4 linked regions of the Homo sapiens genome follow. The protein of the gene in region 2 purifies or fractionates together with the protein of the main gene of each other region. This does not show direct contact. Each region holds a gene or a part of one and is shown on either strand. Other genes may lie near its edges.

Region 1 (4,405 bases), on a different chromosome or scaffold from region 2:
GCAGAGGCTACCAAATACTGAAATGTGCTTTAAGCATTTTACGTATACTAACTCACAGAATCCTCACAGCAACTCTATGAAGGAGATACTGTATAGGAACTCTAACTCAGAGTCTTTGTTTTTGACCACCACACTGCAGTATGTACACAAATAACTACATAAGGTGGAAATGAGTGTTCAGAAGATGGCTACAGCCTTCAGAAGTGGCATTTGAAACAGGATTAGAAGGATAAGCTGGAAACCCCCAGCCACTTTGTGGCTGTCCCCACCCCAGCATGAGCAAAGTTTTCTTCTGGGAGACCCAAATGCAAGAGAGGGGCTCTCAACCTGAAGATTCCTGGACTGGGCCCATTCCCCTTCCCCTCTTCTGTCAGAGGTCTTGGCACCCCTGGGCAGCCTTTCTCTGGGGACTCTAGACACAGGAGGCCCTCAGCTGAATCCACAACTGCATGTTGTCTTTTCTTGTGTTCCACTTATTGAAAGCAGCAGCACACAGGGTCAAACACTGGGGCTATTTTAAAATCCCACATGTAAAAATTAAATTCTCATCCCCATGGGCACTCCAGGGCGCTCTTTCCTGGGGCGGGGTGAGGAGCTGACAGAGTCACGGGAGTGGGGGTTCTGCTGGCACTTGGAGAGGCCACACTGGCAGTGGCTAGGCTGTTCCAGAGCAAGCTGGCAAGCTGTATGACCTGGGGGCATCCTCCAGGTTCTTCACCCCCTTGTCCCCCCGGGAGCTACACGGACCAGAGTAACCAGCCAGAGGCCAATCCAATTAGAGTGGAGACTGGACCAGGGCCATGCAACGAGATGGTTTATCACAGTAATTGAATGTTTACGCTCCTATTATTCACTGTCCAGAGCAGTTGGAAAAGGAAGACCTACGAATTCTCAACCCGGGAAGGCTTCTCCTTTTCCCTGGGTTCTGAAGCCACTTAACACCCAAGGAAAGGGTGCATTTCTCTGATCCAAAAGGGGCGTGTGCCACACCTTTGGTGGGAGGCTCTAGAGCAAGACAGGTGGTTTCTCCCCTCAGCTGAGGCCCCCTAGGGAGGACTGGCTTCTCGGTCCACCTTCACTAGGCCTTCAGTCTCAACCCTGAAGCTACAGGAACAAGAAGATCCCAGATCACCTGGCCAGGCTCCCCCTGCTGGAGCAAGCCAGACATCCCCTCCCTCCCCCAGCCGCAGCTGCCAACAGGGATCCCCTGCATACGCGGGCCACCGGGGCCTCCGTGGCCAGCCTCTCTTCCCCCATCCCACCGCCCCCCGCGCGAGGCTCCACAGGCTGGCACACAGGTCCCACGTGGGATGGTGGAAACAGGAAGCAGCCACCGTAGTTGTGACCAACAAAGTTTTAAATGGGGCATATAACTTCCCCTTTCATCTTCTCACCAGCTCTCGCTGGAGGCTGGGCTGGGACGGACACCCGGCCTCCACTTTCTGTGGCAGGTACCTCCTCCATGTCGGCCCGCCTTGGGGCTGAAGCCTGAAGGCCCCAGGGCACACGAAGTTCCCCTTCCTCCCCTAGACCTTTACCCAGAGGCCTTGGGGGCAACCTGACACACATGGTCCTGCATGTGCGACTTGGGAGGCGACGTGACCAGCTCCACCAAGCCGGCCATATGCAGGGCCCGGCCGAATCCCGGGTTTCGGCGCTGCCGCCAGGCACCAGGGAACACAGCTCCCCGCGAGGCACCGCGCGGGCTGGGAGGGCTGCGGCGGCGCGGGCGTGCGGGGGCGCGCGGGAGGATGACAGGTCTGAGGTGCGCCCGCCCGCGCGAAGCGCTCCAGCCTAGGCCTCTGCTGACTGCATTTGCCCCAGTTCCCCAACGCCCCTGCACCTCTGTCCCCCAAACTCCTGGCGTGGACGCCGCGTCCAGGCCCACTTTCCCGTGCACGCTGGCAGGGGAAGGGGCTCCCGCGCCAAGTTCCCTCAGCTGGCTAGCCCCTCGCCGCGCCTTCCGGGCCTGGGCTCCGTCACGTCAGCCGGTCCCCACGGACACCACGTTTCTCTCCAGCGGAGGAGGAGCAGCCGGATTCCCGAGCCGCCGCGGGCCGCCGGGTGGGGAGGGCTTTCCTGGCGGGGCCGCGCCCGGGTGGGCGGGGGCCGCGCGCAAGCTGCGTAGCTGCACAAACACCGCGGGGCTGCGCTGCACACGCAGCTGCGGGCCGAGGGCGCGGACCGCGGGGGAGGGGGCGGCGGGCTGCAGGCGGCCCCCGCACGGCCACACGCGCCCGCTCCACCGCCGCCCAGGCCGCAGAAGTTCGAGCGCAGCGGCCCCCGCGGCCCCCTCTCCGGGCCGCGCCTGCAGAGCTGCAACCCGCCGTGCGAGCAGCCACAGCTCGCGCGCCGCCTGGGGTCCCCTCGCCGGCCCCGCCGCGTGCAGGCCTCGGCCGCCGGCCAGGCAGCCCCACTTACCCAGCTCTTGCCCGGGCTCCGGGCTCCGGGCTCGGCTGTCCCCCTTCCGCCGCGGGTCGCCGCCTTCGGTCGCCTCCGGGACTCCAGCCGCCTGCACGCACTCCCGATTTTAAAAACAAACAGGCGCCGTCGCCTCCCCGCGGCGCTCGCGGGGCTTCCGCCAGCCCGCGCCTCCCGAGGCTGAGAAGTTTGCTGGCAGGGCCCGGGCGGGACGCGCGGGCTGTCACCCCCCGCTTGCGATGCAGGAGCCTCGGCGCGCCCCGCACCCGTGCCGTCCGCCTCGCGAGCGCTCTGCCTCCCTCCGTGTCACCCCCAGTCCTGCGATGCAGTGTCAGGATTGCACGGCTCTGACTCATCGGTTGAGCTCACAGCTTGAAAAAAAAAAAAAGAGAGAGGGCGAGAGGCAACAGCGGAGGAGGAGGACTCTGGCGTGCTACAAAGGATTGCACAACTCGAGGCTGGGAGCGCGGAGCGCCCAGCGGCCGGCCGGCGCGCGCGGCACCGCGGCGAGCAGGAACCAGCTCTACCACTTCATCAGCACAACTGTCTCGGGGCGGCCTCAGCCAGCAGGCCCGGCGCCGCCCACTTCCTGCGACCAAATAAGGCCGGGGAAGGCGTCCTTAAACCTCAGGCGGCGGCCGGGGCTGGGGATTTCCAGCAGACCTCACCTCCACTCACGAGTCGGTCGCCGTCCCCATCCCCCGCCCAGGCTGGCGCCCCCGATGGCTTTGCTGGCGGGCCACGCTGCTAGTTCCTTTCACACCAAGGTCAGGAGGAGACGGTGACGAAATGTTTGGAAACCCATTGAGCCTGCCAGGAAAGTGTGTGTGTGATGCTGGGGAAGGCACAAGTCGCTTTCTTCCACAAAGAAACTCTCTCTGGTTTTGGATACGGTAAATCATGCACAATCCTCTCCATGGCATTTTATTAACAGACTCTCCGAGTTTCACTTTCTGGCTCAAAAGCGTCCTGGTGCGTGTAAAGGTTATTGAGAAACTGGCCTCAGTCCCTAGAAAGGACCCACCATCTCCATCGCTTAGGTGAGGAAAATCTCCTGGATTTAAATCTAGCAACTCAGGCCAGAGTTGAGCGGCTTTTCACTCCATACTCACATTTTCCCCTGTCTTCCCTAAATATCCCCCTGATCAATTCTCAGGTCCAGGCCTTGATGCCTCCTTGCCTGACTGGTGGGAAGATGGAAAACATTTTTGCAGCTCAAGAGGTTGGTTCTGGCCCCCACATTCAATGGGGCTCTAGGGCCAGGGGAAAGTTCAGGGGAGTGTGTCCTATTCTTCCTTCCAAGTTTTTTGGTGGTGGTGCAGTGGTGGTGGTGGCGGCGGCGGTGGTGGCGGTGGCTGTTTTTCAAGGAGATGGGTCACAAGGAGATTTTCCTTTGAAAGAAAAACCACCGAAGAATACCATGTGTCCTGGCAGCCACTTTTCAAAACACTGTGGCCAGACCTGAGAACCAGGTGCATCCCTCACTTTCTCAGGGAGAAGAGGAGGGAGGGGCAGCAGAATATGATTCTCACACACTCACTGGGCCTACAGGGCCAGGGTGGGGTGTGGAGGACACAGGCAAAACTTGGATCTTCTGCCCAGAAATCCTGCCAAACCTGCACTTGCTTCTAAGGGGGCATGGCTTTCCTGTCCTCTTCCACCTCTTTGCTGGCTGGAGCACCTGCGTACATGTACACCTGGAAGTCACACCTCCCCAAGAGGAGAAGGGCTTATTTGCACCATGTTATGATAGATATGTCAAAATAAGGAACACTTAAAACAATCTTATCTACAAAATACAGGTAATTATGCCACAGGACTGGACCAGAGGACCTCTTGAGATCCCTTCCAGTTCAAGATCCATGATTCTGTGATTACAGTAAGTGAATAGAGGAGCTAGGGAAACCACCTTCTACAAAAAAAAGCCCGGGCTCCCCGATTTAGCATCTGTGATGACAGTATTGTTCCTGGCAGCTCTCAGAGC
Region 2 (3,686 bases):
TATATTTTTGGGCAACTTTTTAGAAATTTGCATTTAAATTGGCTCTATTCTTTTTTATAATATAATCTCCATGTCTTAAATACACAGAAATTTGTTTAATATGAGTGTGCTGCTCTGTTTTATTTTTAAAGGTTTATTAATTCCTGGCTTACTTGGAATTTCATATAGTATGTTGTGTGAAGGATGACTCCACGTTAATTTTCCTTTATTCTGGTATCCAGTTGTTCCCAAAATATTTATATAACAGTGAGTCCTTTCCACATTTACGTGTTGTTTCTCGCTTGACATCAATTAAGTTCTCATGATGGGCTGTTTTTTTTTTACTCTAGTCCATTGATTATTCTTTCTGTTATATAGTTTTGACAACATGTTACTTTATGGTTTATTTTTAAATCTAGCAGCATTTTTGCCATTTAATAATTTTATTACCTGATATTTTTGCTGTCTTTTAAGATGAGTGCTTTTTTACAATGTTTCTAAATTTCATAGATCATTCCATAAGATTTTAATGGTTATTGCATTAAATTTGTTGATTACTAAGAATCATGACTTTTGGGGGTTTAGTTAGTCTTCTCAACCAGTACCAAGATACATCACTAACGGCTTTCCACTATGTATCTGAATCAGATATTAAATTGTCTTTACTTAAACCTCATGTGCCCTGACTCTATTGAGGGTAGCTATGTATTTTACAACACTATTTTTTTTGACAATTTTTACTTGTAGATTCAAATGAGATTCTTTGCTGAGCTCATGTATTTACCATACATTTTTAAAAATTTTCTGACATTTTCTAGATCATAATTGTGTGAGTGATGTTGTTTTTAATTCATATTTTTGGACACAGTTCTGTAAGGAGCATGCATTTTGAAAGCTGTTAATTTTTCTTTTTTTTTTTTTTTTTCAGTGTCAGGGATAGGTACTTTTTGTCTGTTAACCACTTTTCTTTTGTACATTGTGTTAGCAAGTTGTTTAAGAACAAATTTAATGCCCTTTTTTGTCAGATTTTAAAAATTTAATATGATTTAACCTGAATGACAGAATTTTAAAATATTCATTTAGACAAGACAGGTCTTCGACTATTTTCTAGATTTCAACTTGTCTTTTTTTCTCTGAGGAATATTTTGGTAGGTGAAAGTGTATAGAATTTAGCTTTTCAATTCTAATGAGTGTCTTATTTATATTATATGCACCCATTAAATACCTTTATGCAAAAATTGGTGAAAAAGTACTTTTTAGAAACAGAGGACTTTACCTTACTCATTTTGAATATTGTAAACAATATGACAGTATTATCTTCAGTCATTCTATGCCTTTATCTTTATTACTGTTATCTTTGCCTTCTTTTTTTCATTTACACAGTGTCTGTAGTTGGCTTTATTAAATTTTAAACTGCCAGATGATAGGACTGTGGCTTTTTGAACTGGACCTTAATAGGCCTGACTTTGACAGGCAGAAAAATAAAGCACTCCTGACAGAGAGAAGTAAAAGGCCATGAGGAGGTGTGGCTGCACGGGTGTGTTTGGGAAGCAGAGAGCAATGTTGTGTGCTGGTGAAGAGAGTTCAGTGAGCAGAGAGAGAATCCCGGACAATGTCAGTTGGGGCTGGGTCCTGGGGCACCTTGGATGCTGGGTGAAGGAGTTTGGGCTTATCTTTGTTGCTGAGAAGCCATTTTGAAGGGAGGACTAACATCAACAAAGGTGAAATGTGACAGATTTCAAGCTGAATGGCAGGCAGAATGGCAGTCCCAATGTCAGAAACATGAAGGTCAAGAGGAGTGGACTGCAGAAGAGCTTGGGGAACTGGGCAGCATGTTTGATTCTACCATATTGATTTTGAGCTGCCAACAGGGCAGTAGGCAGCACTTAGCTCTCACTTGGAAGCATGAGATGGATTGCTAGGAAAAAAGATTTGGTTTTGGAATTCTAAGATCTGAAGGCTCCAGAAAGGAAAGCTAAGGACATAGTCTGAGATAGAAAAGGGTTGAGGAGCCAACTTCAAGGCTCCTTTTTACAGAAAAAAATGAAGAGGCAAAGAAGCAGTGGCAGAAGGCACAGGTCTAGGAAGGATGGGGTGGAGAGGAGGTACAGAAAGGCACCTGCGGATTTCATGGCTGGAGATCTCAGGTGACTTTGGAGAGAGAGGCTTTAAAGGAGTGATGAGAAACAAGGCGGCTGGCTGAGGAATGACGACAGTGAGGAGGTGAAGACAGCAACACCAAACAACTTGACTGTGAGGGCAGCAAGTGAGTAGATGCAAGCGGTGAAGGCTGTTTGTGCTTTTCAGGACATGAACTCTTGTGCTCGCACAAACAGTTCCACACCAGCCTGCCACCTTCTTCAGCGAGACTCATGAGCGACATCCATGATGCCCATTTATTACTTCCCACTCCTATGACTTTTTTATTTCGTCTCTGCTGGGAAATGCCTGCAGGAAACACCCAGTGACGTGACACGTTTTTAGTAACTTTGTGGTGACATCACTGTCTTCTCTGCTTACTGCAGCTTTCTGTTCACCAAATGCCCTTGCTGACCCCTCACACACACAGTCCTTTGACCTTGATTTCACCAGGAAATTCTCAGGCTGGAAAGAACTTTCAGTTGTCTTCACCATCCCCTGACTTCTACCTGTACATCTCCAAAATCTCCTCAAAAAAGATTAAAAAAAAAAAATCTGAAGTGGGAAAGATTTAGTGAAACACACACTTTTCAGCTAATAGCACATCCTGATCTTTAGTTCACAAATCTCTTCTCGTTTTGTTTTCTATTTTATCATTCACCCTCCAACTGCCCCCCGAACCATGGGCAGCCATTTAAAGCATTTGTTGTTATTTTTGCTTCTCTTATAGGTCATCAAAAACCTGAAAGCAAAATTTTTTTAGAAACTCAAATCATTCTTTAACTCCATAGCTTCAAGGACACAGCGACACATCCAGATGCTGATTTAAGATTGAGAGAGAAGGCACTGCCTACCTGGGCTATGAGTTTGCACCTAGTAAAGGGCTCTATCTTGTCACTCATCCCAGTGAGGACCAGGCAGCAGAGGTAGCAGAGGGTTGCCATTTCCTCTTTAAGGCAATTCCCTCCAGACTGGCTCCATGTGTTACTGTAAAATAGTAAGAAGTGCTAGAAGACTGTCATATAACTTTTGTATGTTGAGAGAAAGCACCCTGAAGTCAAGTAGAAATGGTTCTGTTGCTATCTATTATTTTTTCTGTACTTCTAAGACTGTAAAAAAATTACCCATTACTATTTCCCCCCATCATTATCCAATAAATAAACTCTCAAGTCCCTTACTCCAACCATGATGCTCTAAAAGCATTTCTTTTTAGGCAGAATTTTACATTAGTTGCATTCTGGGATCAGGCCCCCTACCGTGTTCCATTGACTCCTCCCAGTGGGTGCCCCCCTCACTCCCAGTCTGACAAGCAGGTGTGTCTGTCTCTTTAGGAACGACTCAATCGCCGGAGCAGGAAGCTCAGAAAGGACATTGCAGAACTTCAGCGGCTCAAGGCTCAGCAGGAGAAGAAACTGCAGGCTCTGCAGGTGGGTTTTTCGGGTTCCTGGGAAGGACTCCCTGGAGTGTTCTCAGGAGCCCTTACTTAACTATTCTGGACATCTGTCTGTCCCTGGAACAGCCTGATGTGGGCAGATGGTCGTGGAGGCTGAAAACCCGGGTGTTGGCCT
Region 3 (3,686 bases), on a different chromosome or scaffold from region 2:
AGGTGGAGAGATGGAACCGCCATGATCAGAAGCTGCTGGAGGCAGTGCACAGGGGGGATGTGGGACGCGTGGCTGCCCTGGCCTCCAGGAAATCTGCCCGACCCACCAAGCTTGACTCGAATGGCCAGTCCCCGTAAGTCAGTCCTCCTGCCCCTGCCCCTTACATGTGGCTCCCTTTTGAAGCCCCCAAATCCAATATAACATAGGACCAGGGAATGCCTACAACTTCAGAGCTCTTTTCATTGTCTTAATTAGCAAGTATATCAATAGTTTTTTGCTACATATAAGTTCTACACAAAGTGAGGAAAGAAAATATTGTTCCTGAGCTCCATCCATTGCACAACCCAGATTGACACCACTGACTTGTAAAGTACATAAAGCCCATTAAACAAACAGAAAATGAATATATACACTAAGTAGAGTGTTTCTTCATTGCACAAGTAGGAGGGTGTGTATGCATGGGAAATTTGAAATGAAGTGGTAGCATGGGAGTCACATGGCTAGAGGGAGTAGTGATTAAGTCAAAGGAAATGTTATCCCTTGTCTCTACCCAAAGCCTTCGAATGTCCAGCCTTCACTCTGCTCTGGCTGACTCTTTCTGTGACACTTCCACTTCCGCTAAGGTTCTGTGCTCAGAGAGGCAGGTAATTATGTGTTCCCTAGACACCCCTGCAATAGTCTGAGATTCCTTGAGACCTGTAGCTCTTATTTCTTCCTTGCTTTTAGCATCCTTTGTGATTGGAGGCCATATAGACTTCTCTTTCTCAGAAATTCAAGCTAGGGGAGCTTCTTTTCCTGCTTTTAGGATTGGCTTTGGGGTAGGGAGCATAGCAAGAAGGGCTTATCAAGATTCTCCCATTCCTCATCCCTGGTCCCTTTATCCTTTGGCCTCTCGGCCTTGATTCTGGCAGGTTTCATCTGGCAGCCTCCAAAGGCCTGACAGAATGTCTGACTATCCTGCTTGCAAATGGGGCTGACATCAACAGCAAGAATGAGGATGGTGAGTGAGCCGGAGCACTGGGCCACGCTGCTTGCTTGCCCCTGGTACAGCAGCAGTCGGGGGCGGTGCTGGGCCCTGCTGGACATTCCTACTGTGGCCCCTTGCTTCTCTCCTTAGTAAGTTCTGGCCAGCATCCTTCCAGGAGTTCCCCTCCCCGTAAGCTGGGCACACCTCACCCCCACTCCCACCTTCATCACAGGTACCAGGCACTTGGGGAACAGGAATTTCTGGCCCCGTGTGGCTGAAAGCTTCTCTCCCTAATCTCCTGATTATCTGTGCGTCTCTTGCCTTCCCTCCCTGTGAGTCATCAGCATGCATGGGGCCACCTACCCTCCTTCTCCCCTTCTTTCTGTTCCAGGAAGCACTGCCCTACACTTGGCCACCATCTCCTGCCAGCCACAGTGTGTTAAGGTTCTGCTTCAGGTAAGAGCAGTCCCTTGATACCACTCTTATGAAGGGAAGAAGTGGTCCCAGAGTTTTCTAACTTCATTTCATACTTAAAAGGAATAGTTGGCCAAATGTACTCGCCTCATCCCCAATAGGAGGGCTGATAATCATTTGTTTGCCAACATTTATTTAACTACTATGTGCAGGCACCATGTTTGATAGTGCCTTTGAGGGCAGGTTATAAAGCAGAGTTGCCAGGCACTATCGATTTTGTCATTAGCAGAGCCACTGCAGAGACTTCCTGCTATGATGAGGGGCAAGAGGAAGGAGGACAGAGATGTTCAAATTAAACCAAAGCCCTACTGTCTGTTTCTGAAGAGTTTATAGTCTAGTAGTATAAAGAGAAATATACATGTAAAATGACATGTGGATCATTTATAAATGAGTCTCCAAAAGCACAAAAGGCAGTTACTGGCCGGGTGCGGTGGCTCATGCCTGTAATCCCAGACTTTGGGAGATGGAGGTGGGCAGATCACAAGATCAGGAGATCGAGACCATCCTGGCTAACACAGTGAAACCCCATCTCTAATAAAAATACAAAAGATTAGCTGGGTGTGGTGGCACGTGCCTGTAGTCCCAGTTACTCGGGAGGCTGAGGCAGGAGAATCGCTTCAACCCAGGAGGCGGAGGTTGCAGTGATCCAAGATCGCACCACTGCACTCCAGTCTGGGCAACAGAGAGAGACTCTGTCTCAAAAAAAAAAAAAAAAATCAGTTATCTTAACCGGCCATCAGGCAAATGGATGTTCTACTTTCGTTCTTCCTAATCCTTTCCAAATTTCACAATTATGTTTCTAAAGTACCAGCCACGGGGACATTGGGTGTCATTTTCCCTAACACGTTTATTACCATCTGATTTTTCTTAGCCCCTTGGTTTAGAAACCAGGGCTGATATTCAAGGCTGCCTATCATCAGCAATGGATGAACTGGGCTTGCCTAGTAGATAGCCTTCTCCAAAGTGGACCTCCTGCCCCTCCTCATATTACCATGGAAATTGGTGACCCAATGGGGGTATGGGATGAGGATGTTAACACCAAGCTCCATGCTGCTTCCCTTTGTGGCCATTTGCAGCATGGTGCTAATGAAGATGCTGTGGATGCAGAAAACCGTAGTCCATTGCACTGGGCAGGTGTGTGCAGGGGACTCATGGGAACAGGGCTGCAGAGACTACAGGGTGGGAAAGGGGAGGCGTGAGGAGGGAAGGGCAGCCAGGGCCAACCAATGAAATGGTCGGAGGGGATGTTGGGTCATAGTCTGAGTAGGCTTTCTTCATGCTTCCCCTTAACCCAAACATCTTCTCCCCAGCCTCCTCTGGCTGTGCCTCAAGTGTGCTCCTGCTGTGTGACCACGAAGCCTTCCTGGACGTGTTGGATAATGTGAGTGTCAGATGGGCAAGTGGGCAGTGTCCTACACAGAAGGGCTGCTGCTGTCTCTCAGCTTGACTGGCCAACTTCCACGACCTAGGGCTGTGTTAGCACCACCCTTCTCTTCCTTCTCCTCCTGCTTCTCCTCTTCTTCCTCACAGAGAGGTTAAGCCTTATCTTCTGGAGAGCTTCTAACCCTCCAAAAGGGAGTGTTCAGACCCAAGATCTGGGCTTTTATTTTTTTTGGACAGGTGTGAGGGGAGGGGAGCCGGTAGGATTGTCAAGCCTCTGCAGTCCCTGGCTGCTCATGAACCTCTTCCTACAATCTGTGCAGGATGGACGTACACCCCTGATGATCGCATCGCTGGGTGGGCACGCAGCTATCTGCTCACAGCTGCTGCAGCGAGGCGCCCGAGTTAATGTTACAGACAAGAATGACAAGTGAGCCCCCCTCGTCTATGCACCCCAATTCCCATGCCTGACCAATTTAGAAAGAAGCCAGTGGGCAACGTGTGTGTGTGTGTGTTTGTGTGTGTTGGGGAAGAAGTCAGGTTGGTCTTTGTGTTCTTGGGAACCTCATTCCTTCCCAGTGGAGGTTCTGAAGAGCTCTGCCTGCTGCCACCACCATCTTCATAGATAGATGACCCCAGAAGTAGAATCGACACTTCTGGACCCGTTGGCTGAATTTACTGGTTGTCAAATTATCTTTTATGCAAGAGGATCCTTTTTTCCAATAAAAAATGTATGTAGAATCCCTGTGATCCCAGCACTTTGGGAGGCCAAGGCGGGTGGATCACGAGGTCAAGAGATTGAGACCATCCTAGCTAAAATGGTGAAACCCCATCTCTACTAAAAATACAAAAAATTGGTCAGGCA
Region 4 (3,646 bases), on a different chromosome or scaffold from region 2:
ACAGTAACTCAGATGCCCTGTGTGTGTGCACGCATTAGCATGTGCATGCACGTGGCTGGAGGCAGCCACACAGACTGAAAGAATGTGAGCTTTGGAGTGATTCATTCACTTGGGTATTCATTCCACAAATCTTGCTCAGCTCCTAGCATGTGACCACCCATTCTGGACATGGGGATACAGGGGTGAACAGAAGAGACAAGATCTCTGCTCCATAGGAACTTGTGTTCTGGAGGGAAACAAACAATAAACAAGTAAACTAGGCCGAGACACGGGCTTCTAGGCCACTCCACCATGGAGCAACTGTATCACACTTGACCTCACTGAACCTGCCTCTGTCAGAGGAGGTGAGAACTGTCTTGAAGGGATGTCTGAAGACTTCAAGGGCCTCTCAGGGTTCTGGCACGTAGACACCGTGCTGCTGAGGGCAGGAGCTCTGTGGGGTTGAGACTCTTGTTTGCTAGGCATGAAGAGACAGGGAGAGAAGTGGGATGGAAAGAAGGCATTCAGAACTCACAGGCAGCCCCAGCGAGGAGAAGTCAAAGCTCCGTGCCCCTTCCAGCACAAAAGCAAGTCCATTGAACCGGTGGCTTTTTCTGTCATCTAGCTCCTAAAAACAAAAACAAAGGTAAATTCCTGGAGTTCAACCTAAGTGTTTTGGGTCAAAGGTGGGGTCAAAGGTGGGCTGTACAAGTGTTCATGAATTGGGAGGCCGGAGAAAAGACACTGAGGGTTTGCAGAGAGGGTCTTCTGTTCTGGAGTCTAGTTCTATTCAGTCTCTCTGAGAGGTAGGGTCTTTATCGTGTACTTGTGCAGTTTACAAAAATGTGACAAAGTTTCATAATGTAGGTTCACTCAGCCATTTAACAAATGTTAATGAAATGGGGAGCTGAAATGTAAAAGTGATAAAACTTCTGTGCCTTCAAGAATTTCCCAGTCGGTAAGGGAGACAGACATACAAATTACTATCATACAGGCCGGGCACGGTGGCCACGCCTGTAATCCCAGCCCTTTGGGAGGCCAAAGTGAGTGGATCACCTGAGGTCAGGAGTTCGAGACCAGCCTGACCAACATGGTGAAACACCATCTCTAATAAATACAAAAAATTAGCCAGGCGTGGTGCCATGCACCTGTAATCCCAGTTACTTGGGAGGATGAGGCAGGAGAACCGCTTGAACCCAAGAGGAGGAGGTTGCAGTGAGCCGAGATTGCACCACTGCACTCTAGCCTGGGCAACAAGAGTAAAACTCCATCTCAAAAAAGAAATAAATAAAATAAAATTACTTATCATACAGCATGAAGAGGCAGATCTCAGGCATCTTGGGAGTATGGAGGAAGGAGGAATCCTTGGTCATACTCCCAAGTATTGGCCAAGAGAGTTAAAGAAAATGTCAGCAAGAAGATGGCATTGGAGGTGATGTTTACATTGGGTTTTGAATGACCCCTGTGGGTAGTAGGAAAGATTCACGCTATCCGATAGTGGGCAGGATTTTATTCTCAGTACTTCTCTTGCTTTAATTCTCACAGTCAGTAGACAAGTAGACACAGTTGACCTTCGCATCTTCAATAGCCTTTCTTCCTTGTCACAGAACATGCAGGAAGAGCACATTGTGTACAGTTGCATAATATAGTTGGTCTAAACGTTAGTTAATTGGCTTTGACATTATTTCTGAGAGTCCTACAATCCAAATTATTAAAAAGGCACAGTAACGTTAAGAAAAGCCTGTCAGGAATCTGTTTTATGATACCCCAATGTAAGTGAGAAGCTCCGAATTTTGATAATATGATCAGTGTGGACTTGATTCTTTAAAAAAATATTGAAAATAATACATATATTTAGAAGACAAGACCAGGGAGAAAGAGAATACGCAAACTGAAAGAACCTATGAAACCGTTTTTTAAAAGGCAAGGTTGGTACTGAGCTTCCTAGAGGCTGAAGCAAAAATAGTTTAAAACCCCACTGTTGGTTATCTTACTCGTATCAGTGGGCTTGAGGGACATACTCTTCTCTCAATGGAGTACAAAAAAGGTTTTCTTGTTCCAAAAAAATTTTTTTCATGTGTATTTATATTCAAGAAAGATACAGCATTAAAGAATGTGGATCACAGTGAAAGTACAAATGAAACAGTAAATGTGGTTGTTAAGAGCACAGACTTTGATGTCAAGATTGACCCAAATTTACAATCTGGCTCTACAACTGGTTACAATGTTAAGCAAAGTTGCTACACCTCAGTTTCCTTTTCTGTCAATTGGGAGGTAAAAGTGCCAGTCACGGGGTTGAATCAGAAGGCCTTGGTGAAGAGATGCTGGTACAGTGTTGAATAGTTTCTGGCACCCAGTATCTGGAAGCTGTAGTGATGATTGCAGTGGGGTTCTTGTGTCTTCTTATGTTAAGAGGAGCCCCGTCTGTCATCCCAATCTGTGACCTACCTCAGAGGTGCTCGTGACCCACACACGCTTTTAAACCCAGGCCAGGGCATGAATGATGATGAAGGCAGCCCAGTGGAGAGCGAGGGATCCAAGGGGGAGGCGAACAAAGCAAACACCCCCTCACGCTGTGCCTGTCTTATTTCTTGAAGGTGAATGATTCCAATTGTGACCAAGAACTTCTTTCCCTGCTCCTGGATGCCAAGCTGCTGGTGAAGTGTGTCTCCACTCCCTTCTATCCACGTATTGTTGACCACCTCTTGGCTAGCCTCCAGCAAGGGCGCTGGGATGCAGAGGAGCTGGGCAGACACCTGCGGGAGGCCGGCCATGAAGCCGAAGCCGGGTCTCTCCTTCTGGCCGTGAGGGGGACTCACCAGGCCTTCAGAACCTTCAGTACAGCCCTCCGCGCAGCACAGCACTGGGTGTGAGGGCCACCTGTGGCCCTGCTCCTTAGCAGAAAAAGCATCTGGAGTTGAATGCTGTTCCCAGAAGCAACATGTGTATCTGCCGATTGTTCTCCATGGTTCCAACAAATTGCAAATAAAACTGTATGGAAACGATGAGCAAGCTGCCGCTTTTTTAACCTTTTTTTTCTTTCTTGTACTGAGTGGTGAACATATTTTCTTATTGATTAAGAGACTCTTCCTTCCCACCCTCCTTTTTTATTTCAACCTGCCTTTTCTGGATAGAATTCAGTTTATAATGTGTCCACAACTGTAGTTCAGCAAGTTGGATGTGCTGGTGGATGGGGTGGCATTAGGAAGGGAGGGAGTGTGCAGAATGCCTGGCGGTCAAGGCAGGTGTCATGGGTGGAGGGAGGGTGGACCTGGACTCAAGTTTCAGATTAGTTAAATGACCTCGGGCAAATTCTTCCACCTCTTTGAACCTATGTCTATTTTGTAGAAAAATAAGGGTGGTATTATTTGTCTCGTAAAGTTGATAAGTATTATGTGGGGTTGTGTGTGTGAGGCTCTATCAGATACACAGCCGGAGCTGAAGAAATATTAACTCTCTGTCCCACTCACTAGTGTCACAGTATATGAATTATGACCTTCAGGGCATAGCCAGATGATCAGGACCAATACATGATTGCTGTCTGATTAGAGGGCTTCAAAATTTATCAGCATCGACATGTTCAGGTTGACACATTTCATGTCCATAAACGTACATAGGCAGGTGGGTGGGGGAACAGAGCCAGCATGCACACTTATCACAGGTGGGA

The links.
Region 1: the proteins of TRIM40 (region 2) and MIDEAS purify together in Homo sapiens (affinity purification with mass spectrometry, with the first as the bait; one large-scale study listed by BioGRID). This does not show direct contact.
Region 3: the proteins of TRIM40 (region 2) and ANKRD35 purify together in Homo sapiens (affinity purification with mass spectrometry, with the first as the bait; one large-scale study listed by BioGRID). This does not show direct contact.
Region 4: the proteins of TRIM40 (region 2) and NBAS purify together in Homo sapiens (affinity purification with mass spectrometry, with the first as the bait; one large-scale study listed by BioGRID). This does not show direct contact.

What each region holds. Positions count from the first base shown.
Region 1 is NC_000014.9:73,757,342-73,761,746, forward strand, and holds the start of MIDEAS (mitotic deacetylase-associated SANT domain protein), read right to left. Parts: upstream 2,963-4,405; 5' UTR 2,422-2,962; intron 1,479-2,421; exon of another isoform or gene 1,406-1,478; intron 1-1,405.
Region 2 is NC_000006.12:30,142,545-30,146,230, forward strand, and holds part of TRIM40 (E3 ubiquitin ligase TRIM40), read left to right. Parts: intron 1-3,449; coding exon 3,450-3,545; intron 3,546-3,686. UniProt on the Homo sapiens protein: E3 ubiquitin-protein ligase that plays a role in the limitation of the innate immune response. Mediates inhibition of the RLR signaling pathway by ubiquitinating RIGI and IFIH1 receptors, leading to their proteasomal degradation.
Region 3 is NC_000001.11:145,875,705-145,879,390, reverse strand, and holds part of ANKRD35 (ankyrin repeat domain-containing protein 35), read left to right. Parts: intron 1-2; coding exon 3-133; intron 134-911; coding exon 912-1,000; intron 1,001-1,358; coding exon 1,359-1,423; intron 1,424-2,517; coding exon 2,518-2,575; intron 2,576-2,751; coding exon 2,752-2,822; intron 2,823-3,144; coding exon 3,145-3,251; intron 3,252-3,686.
Region 4 is NC_000002.12:15,166,254-15,169,899, reverse strand, and holds the end of NBAS (NBAS subunit of NRZ tethering complex), read left to right. Parts: intron 1-2,576; coding exon 2,577-2,852; 3' UTR 2,853-2,984; downstream 2,985-3,646. UniProt on the Homo sapiens protein: Involved in Golgi-to-endoplasmic reticulum (ER) retrograde transport; the function is proposed to depend on its association in the NRZ complex which is believed to play a role in SNARE assembly at the ER. Required for normal embryonic development.